2 linked regions of the Homo sapiens genome follow. The protein of the gene in region 2 interacts with the protein of the main gene of each other region in a pairwise test. Each region holds a gene or a part of one and is shown on either strand. Other genes may lie near its edges.

Region 1 (7,000 bases), about 74 Mb from region 2:
AAAATAGTACTAACATAAAGGTAGGCAGAAGGCAGATCTAGCTTATATACAATCAGCTTCACCCAGTGATAGAAGTGACCAGGTGAATCGTCTTAAAAAGAAAAAAAAAACACACAGAAAGATTACAGACTCCAAAGTTTCAGTTGTAAGTTACATTCTCTGACATGATTAGTGACACACAATAGTTCATCCAATGTTACTAAACTCCTTCTAAAATCATCTCAAAGTCTTCAGTTAAGACTACCTTTCTTTTTAACTTTTGCTAAGTTTAATAAAGTTCTGAGACAAAGTCTGAAAGTAAGAAAGAAGTAAAGTGGATCCAATGATTTATTTCTGTAACATCCTGCTTGATATCAACATCAACCTTTGCCTTGGTAATGAAATCAACGTTTTATAGACCGAATGTTATGATAGCAGAGAAAGCATGAATTTTAAAAATAGAGAGAGATGGGTACTTGACTTGTACTTGCCTCAAGTATACATATATATATATTTTTTTTCCTTTTTTTTGAGACGGAGTCTCACTCTGTTGCCCAGGCTGGAGTGCAGCGGCGCGATCTCTGCTCACTGCAAGCTCTGCCTCCTGGGTTCACGCCATTCTCCTGCCTCAGCCTCCCGAGTAGCTGGGACTACAGGTGCCCACCACCATGCCCGATAATTTTTTGTATTTTTAGTAGAGACGAGGTTTCACCATGTTATCCAGGATGGTCTCGATCTCCTGATCTCGTGATCCACCCGCCTTGGCCTCCCAAAGTGCTGGGACTACAGGCATGAGCCACCACGCCCAGCCTCAAACATATATTTTGAAATGCGTATAAGCTTTATCAGTATGAATTCTAGGGGAAGAGAGAATTTCAGAAGATACAAAATGCAAACTGTAGGAGGATACAAAGCCTTACAAGTGTCTCCTTTGGTTAGGAACCATGCCGGGTTTTTTGGGGTCTTTTTTCAGCTTTGAGGTATAATTCACAAATGCAAATTGTATATACTCAAGGTGTGCAGCATGATGTTTTGATATAAAAGCTGAACTCACAGAAACAAAATGGAAAGGTGGTAACCAGGGGCTGGAGGTAGGAGAAATTGGAAAGACATTGGTCAAAGGATGCAAACTTGTAGTTACGAGTAAGTTCTGGAAACCTAAGGTATAGCATGGTGACTATAGTTGCTAACAATGTATTATATATTTAAAATTTGCCAAGAAGTAGATCTTAAGTTTTCTCAAGGCACACACACACGGTTATGGCCCCTACATCAGACACACATAACTATGTGAAACCATGGTAGGTATTTTACATTTTGTTATTAACCTAAGCACTTGAACAACAGATGTAGGGCTGAAGATCAAGAGAATCGCTCAGGGTACTTTAGTACCATTCCATTGGAACTTAAACGCTACGAGGGCAGGAATTTTGTTTCCCACCGCTCTTTCCCCAACACCTATACCAGTCCCTGACACACAGTAAGTGCTCAGAAAACAACTGTTGAGAATAAATGAATACCTGGCAGTGAACTAATAAACTCAAAGGGAAACGAAAGCCAAGCACATCCCATCTTGTTGTGAACACGAAGATTCTGACGGTCTCAGGCATCCCTGAGCGAGTCTGCTGTGACCACTTTGGGGTTTCACATCAGGAGAAAAAACAAATGTCCAAAAGAAGATAAAAATAAATTAGGTTAGAGAAAAGAAAATAGACATACTTAAATGAACACAAAAGAAACTATGAGAGCTTAATTTAAAGAGGTGTCAGAAACTTTCCAAAATAAAGAATCAGGCTGGGCGCGGTGGCTCAGGCCTGTAATCCTAGCACGTTGGGAAGCGGAGGCGGGTGGATCACGAGGTCAGGAGATCAAGACCATCCTGGCTAATACGGTGAAACCCCGTCTCTACTAAAAATACAAAAAGTTAGCTGGGCGTGGTGGCGGGCGCCTGTAGTTCCAGCTAGTCAGGAGGCTGAGGCAGGAGAATGGTGTGAACCCGGGAGGCGGAGCTTGCAGTGAGCCGAGATTGCGCCACTGAGCTCCAGCCTGGGAGACTGAGCGAGACTCCATCTCAAAAAAATAAAATGAAAATAAAATAAAATAAAATAAAATAAATAATAAGAATCAAAGACAAAGAATGATTATGAAGCCATCAGAGAAGGGAGAAACAGTCTGTGTATTTCAACAGAAACAAGCAAGGACAGTGAGAGGACTTTTTAAAAAAGATCTTCTTTCTCAACACATTTCTAATTTGTTCCTGCTCTCCCACCTTGAACTACTACCTTCCAGATACAAGGTGTTGCCTTTCCAAGGAAGACAGATTATTCTCGATCTCTGAAACCTTTGGATTACAGAATCCCAATACGTAAAAGGGGTCTTAAAAATCCTCTAGTCCAACCCTTGTTTGAATGAATGAGGCCACTGAGGCTCAGAGAGGTTAAGAATTTACCCAAGGTCACACAGCTGGTTATTCATGAAAATCAATGTTCCTCCTTCTTTCTCTGGCCATTGACACCTTCAATTTCCAGATAAAATCTTCCTCCTGCACCGAGAGCAGGGAAAACACTTCTTTGGACTTTTGGGGAGGTAGGTGAATGAATGAAGGAAACAAAGCATGTTGGCTGTTATGGCCCCTACATCACTTTGCTCTGCTGTGTTCTCCACGCCACGTGCCCACTGCAACTTCCTTTTGAAATATTTAAGAATAGTTGGCTGCCTGAAAGCTCTCTGATGCCTCTGGAGTGAAGACCTGATACAAATCCAAATTAATAAATTCCATCTCAAATGGGAGAATCCTGTGTTGGGTAAAGTACATCCCATGAAGCTGAGTCACCCTATTCTGAAGCACAATGACCAATTTTATCTAATCACAGAATTTTAAAATATTCAGCACTTCCAATAAAAAATGTATGAAATCATAAATCCAAATGGTTATGTGTGTGTGGCTAAAATGAACATCCGGGGGAAATTAAGACTATCAGCACAATTTAGAGAGCTAGCTGCTTCTTAACGGTACAGCCAAGCCTTTTTTTCTAACCTGGCTCAAACCTATAGAGTTATTAGCTGGTTTAGATGTCTGATGCAATATTTGCAAACAAATTGAATTAATTGCAAAATAAACAAATGTAGCTGAATTTTGCAACCAACATAGCACACAGTAAACTAAACTATCAGCTTAACTCAAACAAAAAATTCCTAAGAAAATTTATATCCAAAACCACTAAAACATTCAGATGTCATTTTCACTTTCATAACCTACCTCTTAATTCAACATATTTTAAGCTACTGAAAATCAAGTGCTTTCCCATTTGGGTTTTGGCTGGAGCGGTTTGTTTGTTTTGGAGTAACAGGTGTGCAACTGCAACATGTATATGTCTTAAATTTTTGGCTGAGATAAATTAGATATAATGTTTCAGAATGTATGAAAGAGTATTTACTTAAAATTTTGAAATATTTAAAGTATGTGAGATCTTAAAAACCTAAAAATATCAATATGGTTTTTCTATTCAATGACTGTATCTATCCATCCAAGCCTAAGTTATTTGCCAACTTTCCATGCTCAGAACGTAATTGAAAGTCCAGAAAGAAACGAGAGGCCTCTGATGAACCTAAACACAGTTCACAAATCGTAGGTGCATTATTAATAAAAAGCCCTTTGGGTCTTCGCCCAGAACCGAATTGTTCTTTTCTATTGATAGCAGATACAGAGGATACAAATTCTCACACAGCTAATTGGGAGTTAATTTCTACTTACAAACAGAAAATCAGTTCTAAAAGCCAAATGAATGCATTCCACCTGAAATGGACATGTTGAACAATTCACCTTATAAAGAGGAACACCAGGATTTTTTAAAAAATCTTAAATGGACCTTAAGAAGGAAAGCTGAGCAAGCAAAGAGACAGAAAATGATTTTTAAAATAAGGCCGCCAGGAGACCTCAAGATCACAGCAGGGTGTGGATGCTGAGTATGGAGGTCAGAGCCCCATCACCCTCACTAGACCTGAGATGGGATTCTCACGGAGAGGGGTTCCATCCCAGGGAGGCTGCGGGGACATCAAAGTAACCAGGAGGTCTTGAAAGGTGTCCAAGAGGAGAAGACAGAAGAGCTCCTGATCAGTGCTGAGGAGTGAGTGGGCAGGAAAGAAAGAAGTGATCGCTTGAGGTCAAGGGGAGCTTTATTTAGAATGGATGAAACCTGAGGATGTTTTCAACACAAGGAGAAGCCAGGAGAAGAGCAGAGTGGAAAATAAGACAAACGGGAGAGAATGGTGTAGGTAGAGAGCGGGAAGGGGTGGCATGAAAAGCCTAGAGGAACAGAGGAGCCTTGAAAGACTCCTTCTCCTCCTCGGAAGCCCCCTTCGAGTCCCGCACCCCAGCTGGTTGCTTCCATCTCAGGCACGTGGCAAAGAATTAACCTAAGGCGGCTCAAAGCAGGTCCTCAGACAGGAATTAGCATCACCTGGATCCTGTTTGTTGAATCTCTAAGTCCAGTGCAGACCTACTGAATCAGACGCTGCAGTAACAAGACTGCAGGTGATTCCTATTAAAGTTTGGGCTGCACTGGCTAAAGCAGCGGTTATGAATACAGGCACTGAAGTCAACTAGATCTGGGTTCAAATCCAGCTGGATTTGGGCACATGGTATGTGCCCAAGCTTGGGCAAGCATTTCTAACCCTCAGTTTTTTCCTCAGTAGAATGAAGACAATTGCACTAATATTTCTTGGGGGCTACTGTAAAAATTAGAGTCCGGGCGTGGTGGCTCACACCTGTAATCCCAGTGCCTTGAGAGGCCTTAATGGGAGGATAGCTTGAGGCCAGGAGCTCAAGACCAGCCTGAGCAACATAGTGAGACCCCTGCCTCTAGAATTTTTTTTTTTAATTAGCTGGGCATAGTAGTGATTGCCTATAGTCCCAGCTACTCGGGAGGCTGAGGAAGGAGGAATGCTTGAGCCCAGGAGTTCGAGGCTGCAGTGAACCATGGTCATGCCATTGCATTCCAACCTGGGTGACCAGGCAAGACTGTCTCAAAAAATAAAAATAATTAAGTGATATATTGTAGAGGTAAAGAGTGTGGCATTAAGTCTGGCACACAGTAATAATGGATGGCATGTTATTATTGTTCATCCCTTCTACTCTGACTGGTAAAATAGCTCCATTACATCCCTGTCCGAGACACTCTGGGAAAGAGGCTGCCAATGAGAGGGAATACGCTATAGGCTTCTGCATCCCACAGGACCCACCCGGAGCTCTGCACAGGGAAAGTGCCCCAAAAATATGGACTGAAATGAATGTACCCAGGGCTGTGACATGGGCAGACCAATGATCCCAAAGCAAATATGGAAACTATTTCTTTTACTATATTTACACAAAAACCAGTTAGACATAGGTTATAAACTTGTTTGGGATTAAAGGATCAACTTTCAGAAGGGGACAAGCACATTAGGAGGAAAAAGAATGCCTCTTTCAAAACCTCCTACAATAGGGAGTGTCTCTAAGAGGGACAGAGATCTCTCTGAACCAATACTAAAGAGCCCCTGAGATCAACAGTGCAAACTGCTCCTGAGATGTGTGACCCAAGTTGAAGTTGACTGTATGGGTAAAACACTTAGGTCAAATTGCACCACTAGATGAGTTTCTTCATTTTAGGCAAAGTTCCAATAATGAAGTGACTGACTTCATGCGGCACACCTTAATTTCCCGGTTGGCAAAAGCACGTGTACAGAAACCCCATATACAGAAACCCCATCGGACTTGTTACCGCAACACGAACGTTTCTGCTTGCATTGTCATAGATGAAGGAAAAAAAAGGAGAACTTATAACACAGAACACCAGCTTCTACTGTGAGTAATATAGGATGAGGGCAAAAGTACTGGATGGATCACAGCCAAATTTCGATATGAAGAACCCACAAGTCGTTACAATTCAATCCGTTCAAACAACTCACATTTCTGGATTGCCCACTGGGCTAGACCCTGGGGGTGGTAAGAGAAGTGAGACCCAAGCACCTCACTGGGTACCCTGCTGCCAAGGAAAGGGCCACCAGGACCTAGTGACTGCAGCCCTAGAGTACAGGCTGGAGTCGAGGCCCAGGAGGCCAGAGGCATGTCAGAGGAAGCTTCTGGCACATCTCCTTTGATATTGCTTCCCTGGCAGGCAAGAGAAGACAACATTTTGGGGAGACTTGCCAACAGAACTCCAGGGGCATGAAAGACCCTGAAGGGGAGGCTACAGAGCCCAGGCTTTTGCATGTAAGCAGTGAGGAACGATGAGGGTTTGGCCCTGGCCGAGTGCAAGATGAGATCTTTGTTTAGGAAGGTCATTCTGTGGCTAGACCAGACGGAGGAGAAACCGAGGGCCAAGGGATCCATTAAGGGCAAAGCAGTAGCCCAGGTAAGAGATGGCGAGGCGAGGCCAGGCGCGGTGGCTCATGCCTGTAATCCCAGCACTTTGGGAGGCCGAGGTGGGCAGATCATGAGGTCAGGATTTCGAGACCAGCCTGACCAACATGGTGAAACCCCATCTTTACTAAATATACAAGAATTAGCCGGGCGTGGTGGCGGACACCTGTAATCCCAGCACTTTGGGAGGCCGAGGTGGGCAGATCATGAGGTCAGGATTTCGAGACCAGCCTGACCAACATGGTGAAACCCCATCTTTACTAAATATACAAGAATTAGCCGGGCGTGGTGGCGGACACCTGTAATCCCAGCTACTCAGGAGGCTGTGGCAGGAGAATCCCTTGAACCCGGGAGGCAGGGATTGCAGTGAGCCGAGATTGTGCCATTGCACTCCAGCTTGGCTGACAGAGTGAGACTCCATCTCAAAAAAATAAAAAATAAAAAAGATGGCGAGGCTTAAGAGGAGGTGGTGGGGCAGAGGCCTCGGGGACCTAAAGGGAGAGGAGTCAAGGGTGACCAGAAGATTCCTAGTTGAGTCACAAATCAATGAAGCCCAGAACTGCTGGAAAGTTCTAGACCTACGGATACTCCCAGTCACAGCAAGGCACCCTGAGATCAGCG
Region 2 (7,107 bases):
TTACCCTATATGGTCTCACAAGAGGAAGCATGAATAATACACCCCTGGTTTAGCATATCATCAGGAAATAACCATAAAAATGGGTAACCAGTGGCCCTCGGGGCTGCTCTGTCTATGGAGCAGCCATTCTTTTATTCCTTTACTTTCTTAATAAACTTGCCTTCACTTTACTCTATGGACTTGCCCTGAATTCTTTCTTGCTGGAGATCCAAGAACCCTCTCTGGGGGTCTGGATCGGGACCCCTTTCCTGTAACAGCTCTATGATGATGATGGTGATACAATACGTGCCAAGGTCTCCTTTAGTGAGAGTACGCCTCAAAAAAGGAAAACAACGTAGGTTCTCCATCAGGGACCACACAGTGATAGGCAAAAGTGCAAACCAGCCCACACTCCATCAATCCCTACCCCACCTGGTACACCCTGCAAGTTCATTCTCAACATGGGGCATTACTTCCATTCCTGACTCCCTGAAGTTGTGGTCAGATCAGGTAAGAGTGATCAGTTTCCAACAGGTCTAAAGTTCATGCTCCAGGGATCCCAGAAACAGGCTAAATTGTCCCACCCGCCCCACTGCATAATTTATGCTGCATTGACACACACACACAGAGTCTACCCCGACCCAGCCATGGGCCTCCGCCCAGGCTTGGGGAGGGTGGCTTCCTCGCCAGCCAAAGGGAAATGACAGCACAGGGACAGAGAAAGCAGCCCAGTGGAGTGGCAGAAACCACAGCTGTTTCCCCTTTGCTAACTCAGCCACTTAGATATCACTTCCTCCGCTCAGGTAACAGCAGGGAGAGATGGGACTGGGAATAACTCTGTCTTTTCCTGTTCACAAAAAAATGATTGGTTTGGAAAGAAGGAAAACCAGAGGCCGTTTTCTAGAAGAGATCTTCACTAAGAGCCTAAGTACTCCTGAGTCGACTCTGTCTATGAGGCTTCTCAGGAGAGGTGGCTGGGCAGGTGAACCTTGTTTAAAAATTCCCTGGGGTCAGGAACAACTCACTTTGTATAGCATCCCTGCCCTAGATAATTAAGAACCCAGACTGGGGGATCAAGGGACCTCCTCACACAGCTATCATCTCTGGGCTCAGTGCTTTCCAAAGCAGCTGTTATACCTGCCCTCCGCTCTGCAAGGCAAGCCTGAAAAGAAACAGTTGCACCATTTTCTAGATGGGCAAATGTAGTTCTAGAAGGGGGAGGTGACATGTGGAAGATCTCACGGCTTGAGGAGCCAACCAACTAGGCCTAAGGTGGAACCATGGAGCCCAGGCATCCTGGGTGTGTAATGTGTCATTAAGCGGTCTCTGTGGGGACAGGGCAGGCTTTGGAGCCAGCAGACCTGGGTCAGTGCAGGCCTCTCCACATGCAGCTCATCAGCTGCGTGGCATCTGGCAATTCATTTGAGCTCTCTGAGCCTTTGTGCTGTCACCTGTACAGTATGGATGCTGGTGGGAGCTACATGCTGCGTGGGGCTGTTCTGAGAACATCCATATGAGATGCTTAGCACATAGAAAACATTTAGAAAGGTCAGCTGTTATTTTTATTGTTACATTTTCCCTAAGAATAAGGTTTACTAGACTATCTGGGAGTGTGGTAGAGGTCAAATAAATGAAGAGGTAGTTTGAAGCATTGCATTTACTTATTTGTTTTTAGAGACAGGGTCTTGCTGTTGCCGAGGCTGGAATGCAGTGGCATAATCATAGCTCACTGCAGCCTCCAATTCCTGGGCTCAAGTGATCTTCCCACTTCAGCCTCCCGGGTAGCTAGACTACAGGTGTTCATCACGATGCCTAGCTTTTTAGAATTTTTTTTTTTTTTGAGACAGGGTCTCACTCTGTCACCCAGGCTGGAGTGCAGTGGTGTGATCACGGTTTACTGCAGGCTCAACCTCCTGGGCTCCAGCCATCCTCCCATCTCAGCCGACTGAGTAACTGGAACTACAGGCGCATGCCTCCACACCTGGCTTATTCTGGCTTATTTTTTAATTTTTTTGTAGAGATGGGGTCTTGCTACATTGTCCAGGCTGGTCTGAGCTCCTGGCCTCAGGTGATCCTCCCCACTTTGGCCTTTTGAAGCACTGGGATTACAGTCATGAGCCACCATGCCCAGCTGAAGCACTGCATTTAAAACTAAAACAAGTTCAGGCCAGGCGCAGCGGGTCACACTTGTAATCCCAGCACTTTGGGAGGCTGAGGCGAGTGGATCACCTGAGGTCAGGAGTTCGAGACCAGCCTGGCCAACATGGCAAAACCCCACCTCTACTAAGAATACAAAAATTAGCTGCGTGTGGTGGTGCATGCCTGTAATCCCAGCTACTTGGGAGGCTAAGGCACGAGAATCGCTTGAACCCGGGAGGCGGAGGCTGCAGTGAACCGAGATCGCACCACTGCACTCCAGCCTGGGTGACAGAGCGAGACCCCAACTCAAAAAAAAAAAAAACCAACTAAAACAAGTTCAGAGAGATCCTGAAGTAGAAGGCAACATTAGTGTAGATGGTTCAGAAGACACAGACATGCTGGGCTCCCCTCAGACTGTGAGGTATTGGCCCCCAGAACCTACGAGGATGGGCGCATTCTCGCTCTTGCCACTGGGGGAGTGTGGATGGAAATTACTCCACCTGAAACGCTGCTGCATCAGGCCCTCCCAAGCTAGTTAAGACCCAAAGCAGCTGACACCTCACTTCCTGCTGCTCCCTCTCCTCCTCCTCCTCCTCCTCAACCCTTCCTCCCCAGGAGCCTGGGTGCAATCAACTTTTTATGGGGAAGCCAGACCCCTAGGAGTGAGAGCTGTAAACAGGAGGGGTGGGACCCAGCTGGCCAACTAAAGAGTCCCCCAGGCAGAGCTAGAAAAAGGTTCCAGTCCTTACTTAGCTCTGTTCCAGGCACAGTCGCAAAAACAGCGCTGGAGCCCACCGGGAGGACCTCAAAGTGACTATTTAGCTCCCTCTCCCTGCCAAGCCCTTGGGAGAAAAGGAAGGTTCCAAGGTGTCTACAGAATAAACTGAATTCCCTCTGCTGCCATCGGAGCCTCTCAGAGCTGGCCCTGAGCTTTCCTGTCATCCTTCTCTCCCTCATCCACCCTCGGCTTTGCCCAGCTTTTCCTTGCACGTTCCACCTCCAGCACCTTTGCTTTTCTCTTTCTTGGAATGCCCTTCCCCAGTTTTCCCATCTAAATCCTACTCTTTCCCAGCCAAATCCTAATTACACCTCAAGGTCCATCATGAAGCTGCCTTCTCCAGTCGGTCTTCCCTGGAAACTCCAGTTCACAGAGTGCTCTCCCTCCTCTGAACAGCTTCAGGACTTAGTGATTGTGAAAGCAAATACTTATGCTGAGCTCCATAAGGCGCCAGGTACCGGTCTAAGCTCTTTACAATTACAAACTCATTTCATCTTCATCATAACCCTAAGAGCTAGGTCCAACTTTCCCCATATATTCTTTTTTTTTTTTTTTTTTTTTTTTTTTTTACTGATGAGGAAACTGAGGCTCAGAGACATAAGTAACTTGCACTGTATCCCACGGCAGCGAGTGGTGGGGCCAGGATATCCCAATGCTCAGCCAAGGGATACGGCACACAGGTGCTCTGGGACAACACAGCCTCCCAGGTGCACCCCTCATCCCCAGGTGGTGCTGCCTGGACTCACTGGTTATTTTCTCTCTCACCAAGCCAGCTCTGATGGGGAAGAAGTGGCACTCACAGATGTGGGTGTCAGAGACCAGGGTGAGAATCCCAGCCCTGCCACAGAATTACTCTGAGTAGAATGATACGAACCCTCCGAGCTTCAATTTCCCCATCTATAAAATGGGAATAAAAACACCTACCTAACCGCATGGGGTTGTTATGAGGTTCAAGTAAAATCGCCTCTAAAGGCATCTTCTGCATTGCCTGGCACATAGTAGGTGCTTGTATGTTAGTTCTCCCCCTTCTTATGGGGTCTGGACAGCCTTGCTGGACTCTGACCGGCACCATGCACACAGCAGGGGCTCAGTCTCTGCGGCTGATATGGTGACTTGCCTGGGGGTTACCCAGAGGCACAAGAGGGATCCTCATGTGACCCCCATCCCCTTCACAGCTAGGCTCCTGACCTTCCATTCACCTGCCCACCTGTGACTGGCTGCACTACAGGCAGCAGAAGCCCGGGCCAGGCAGGAAGTAGCACGCTGCTCTGGGAATCCGCCTCTGGAAGCCCTGATCACTCTATTGGGCGCTTCCATTATTTTTGGCAATTGTCATGGCAGAGAACACCTCTGGCCCTCACTCAGAACCTATTTCCAAAGCCAGAATCTCCACCTCATTTCCCACACACACCCCTTGTCCTTCCTGTCCCCTGGGTCCCTATCCTAATCTACTATCCCTTTCCTGGATTCTCAGAACTCGAGAGGAGTAAGTGGGACTACCATGTGTATAACTCTATTATTTGTTTCATTTTGTTTAATTAAGAGGTAAAAGAGAACACAGTTGCCCATTAGACTTTTTCTGGCCAAGAAATAGTCTGGTCAGTGACTCAGGCTGAGGCAATTAGAAGGCAATTTACAGGGAACTGCTGTGCAAACCCAAAGTCAGAAGTCCTAACAACACTTCCCTAATTCATAGCCTCCACGGTCAGTTAACTCATGCTGGCCCCGGAATATCTCTTTGGAAAATGCAGCAGCTGGGGCTTGTATTTCTGGGCTGGAATCGGTCTCCTCTGACATCAAATAGGTTTATTTTTCCCTTCTCTTCCCTTCCCCTCTGCCTGCCACCACACATGGTAATTTCTACCCTGGTTTGCCCCCCAAAAGCCCTCACTCAGCTCAACACAGGGTTGCGATAAATGGCTGGCTGTGCTCCCTGTTCCAACAGCCTTGAAGGGTGTGGTTGGTTGTTCCATGAGCAGGGAGCCTTGTCAGACCCGTGAATCACCCCTCGATCACTTCCCTCCCCAGAGAAGAAACCGTTCCCATGCTTGTGCATGTGTAAGAGAGACAGAGGGACAGAGAGAGCAGGCAAGAGTGTTAACCCATGTGTGGTGCTGACCTTGGGGCTAGGATCCTATTTGACCTTGCCCTTACCCAGAGCAACCTCTTTCCTTCTCTCCTAACCTCTGTTTCTTCCCAGCTTACCAGAAAGCCACCACCAGATCCCAATGCTCAGCTCCAGGAACCCCTCCAGGTCTGAACAGCTGCTCTGTGTTTATCTGTTCCTCTTGGAGGCTGGGTGTTTTCCATGGGGCGTGTAACCCACTTCCCCATCAGACTGTGAAAAGCTGGGCCGTCCTTCTTGCCTCAGTCTTTCCTTTTCTCTCAGATTGACCGATTGGGTCCTAAATCACCTGCAGTGCCTTGGTGATCAGGAACAGCAGATGGCAACTAGTATATGGTGCATGTCCATGGTGAGGTCAGGCACTGGGTAGACACTACCCCAAATTATCTCAGGCCAACTTCCCAAGAGCCCTGTGAAGTTACAGGTGAGGAGACTGAGGCTCAGAGTGACAGCCCAAGGTTGCACAACTAGGAAGTGCCACAGGTAGGATTCAAGCACTGATCTGCCCAACACCATACTCATTCCATAATGGAACTGGCCCTGAAAAAGACCCTTGCAGGCTGTGGCTGCACATTCTCATTCCTGTGGGGCTGGAGTCACAATCTAAGGGCTGAGAAAAAAAAAAAAAAAGAAGGGCACAGAAATGAATGAGTTTGGGGCCAATTCCTAAGCATGTAGCTCCCAGGACCAAGAATAAAATCTGGGATGATCTAAACAGAGGAAGAATATATTATGTCCACAAGGTCAACCCTTAATTTATTACCCTAAGCATTACTGGGGACCAGATACCAGCCTGAAGTTGCTCTACTCCTCCTGCCTCACAGTGACCCGCCTGCGTTGCCCACCATGAACTCACCTGCAGGGCACATGGTAGATGTCTCTACAGTGAGGCAGTCCTAAAGACAACCCTGTACTGCTCTGTCACCATGGAACAGGGCTGAGCCTGGCCTTCCTGCCCGGATTCTAATTGAAGAGAAGGGCCCCACCTTATATCCACATCCTCCTTTGGAGCTAACCTGACCTGCATTGCCCTAGCTCTGCCCTGTGCCAGCTGCGAGACCCTAAGCAAGTTGGTGAATTGCTCCAAGTTGCAGTTAATTCATCTGTAAAACAGAATCCAAAAACCTACCCCACATTAGGGTACATTCAATGACCTGCAGGAATCACACGAAAACACGAGTGTTAAGTATGTTTCACCATCGATGGTAACTGCTAAACTGGCTATTATTTGCATTCCCCAAAGAGTCCTGCAGAGGATCAGAACATTCATGATTGGTATTTGTCTGAAATAAACAATCAGGAAATAAAACAACTGTGAAAGTGCAATACCTCCCAAATCCAAATAGATACAATTTCTTGTTTGTTTTAGATAAACGAGCTTTTCTCTACCACATGAATTGATATATACCTATACCTGCCTGTGAGCACAAAGAACCCGGTGGACCTGAATTCAAATCTTTACTGAAAAACTTTCAAACGAAGGAATCTGCATTCTGCATCCAGCATCATCAGGACCATTTTCAAGACAAGCGGTCAGAGGCCAAAGCCAGTTTACCTAGGGTCTCCCCAGGCACAGCTCAGAAAGCCAGGAAAGGAGCCTAGCTTCATGCCAGGGAGCCTGACCTTAGTAGCAGCTGCCTGCCCTTCTCAACCCCACCCCAAGCAGGGGCCTGGCAGAGAAGAAGGAAGCCAGGGCTGAGTGCCATCCCCATGATGGAAGCTACTTGCGTGCCTTCATGAACTGACCGAAAGCACAGGACCCTTCGTGTTCAGGCAGCTCCCCCTCCCCGTGGGGATGAGCAAACCCTTTGCAGAATGTCCTGAGAGAACCTTTGCAGTGTGTTCCCAGCACTCTGGAGCCAGCAGAGCTCCTCCTGCGTGGGCCCCAGGCCTCTCATCGGCTAGCTCTGGCTAACACGCACATCCCGTAAAACCTCTCTGCTCTGCAATTTACCAAACCACAGACTCAGAATTCACCATCAGCAGAGGAAAGGCTGGAAGGAGGCTTGCTCCTCCAGTGTAGAGGGTTTCCAGAACACAGGCAATGGGTGCAGCACGTCCTGCCAGCTGACCACACCAGAGGGCC

Evidence for each region. Proteins that work in one complex are often made in the same cells at the same time.
Region 1: the proteins of SH3PXD2A (region 2) and SVIL interact in a two-hybrid assay, tested with the Homo sapiens proteins (one study listed by BioGRID).

Annotation. Positions count from the first base shown.
Region 1 is NC_000010.11:29,624,972-29,631,971, forward strand, and holds part of SVIL (supervillin), read right to left. Parts: intron 1-7,000.
Region 2 is NC_000010.11:103,845,513-103,852,619, forward strand, and holds part of SH3PXD2A (SH3 and PX domain-containing protein 2A), read right to left. Parts: intron 1-7,107. UniProt on the Homo sapiens protein: Adapter protein involved in invadopodia and podosome formation, extracellular matrix degradation and invasiveness of some cancer cells. Binds matrix metalloproteinases (ADAMs), NADPH oxidases (NOXs) and phosphoinositides.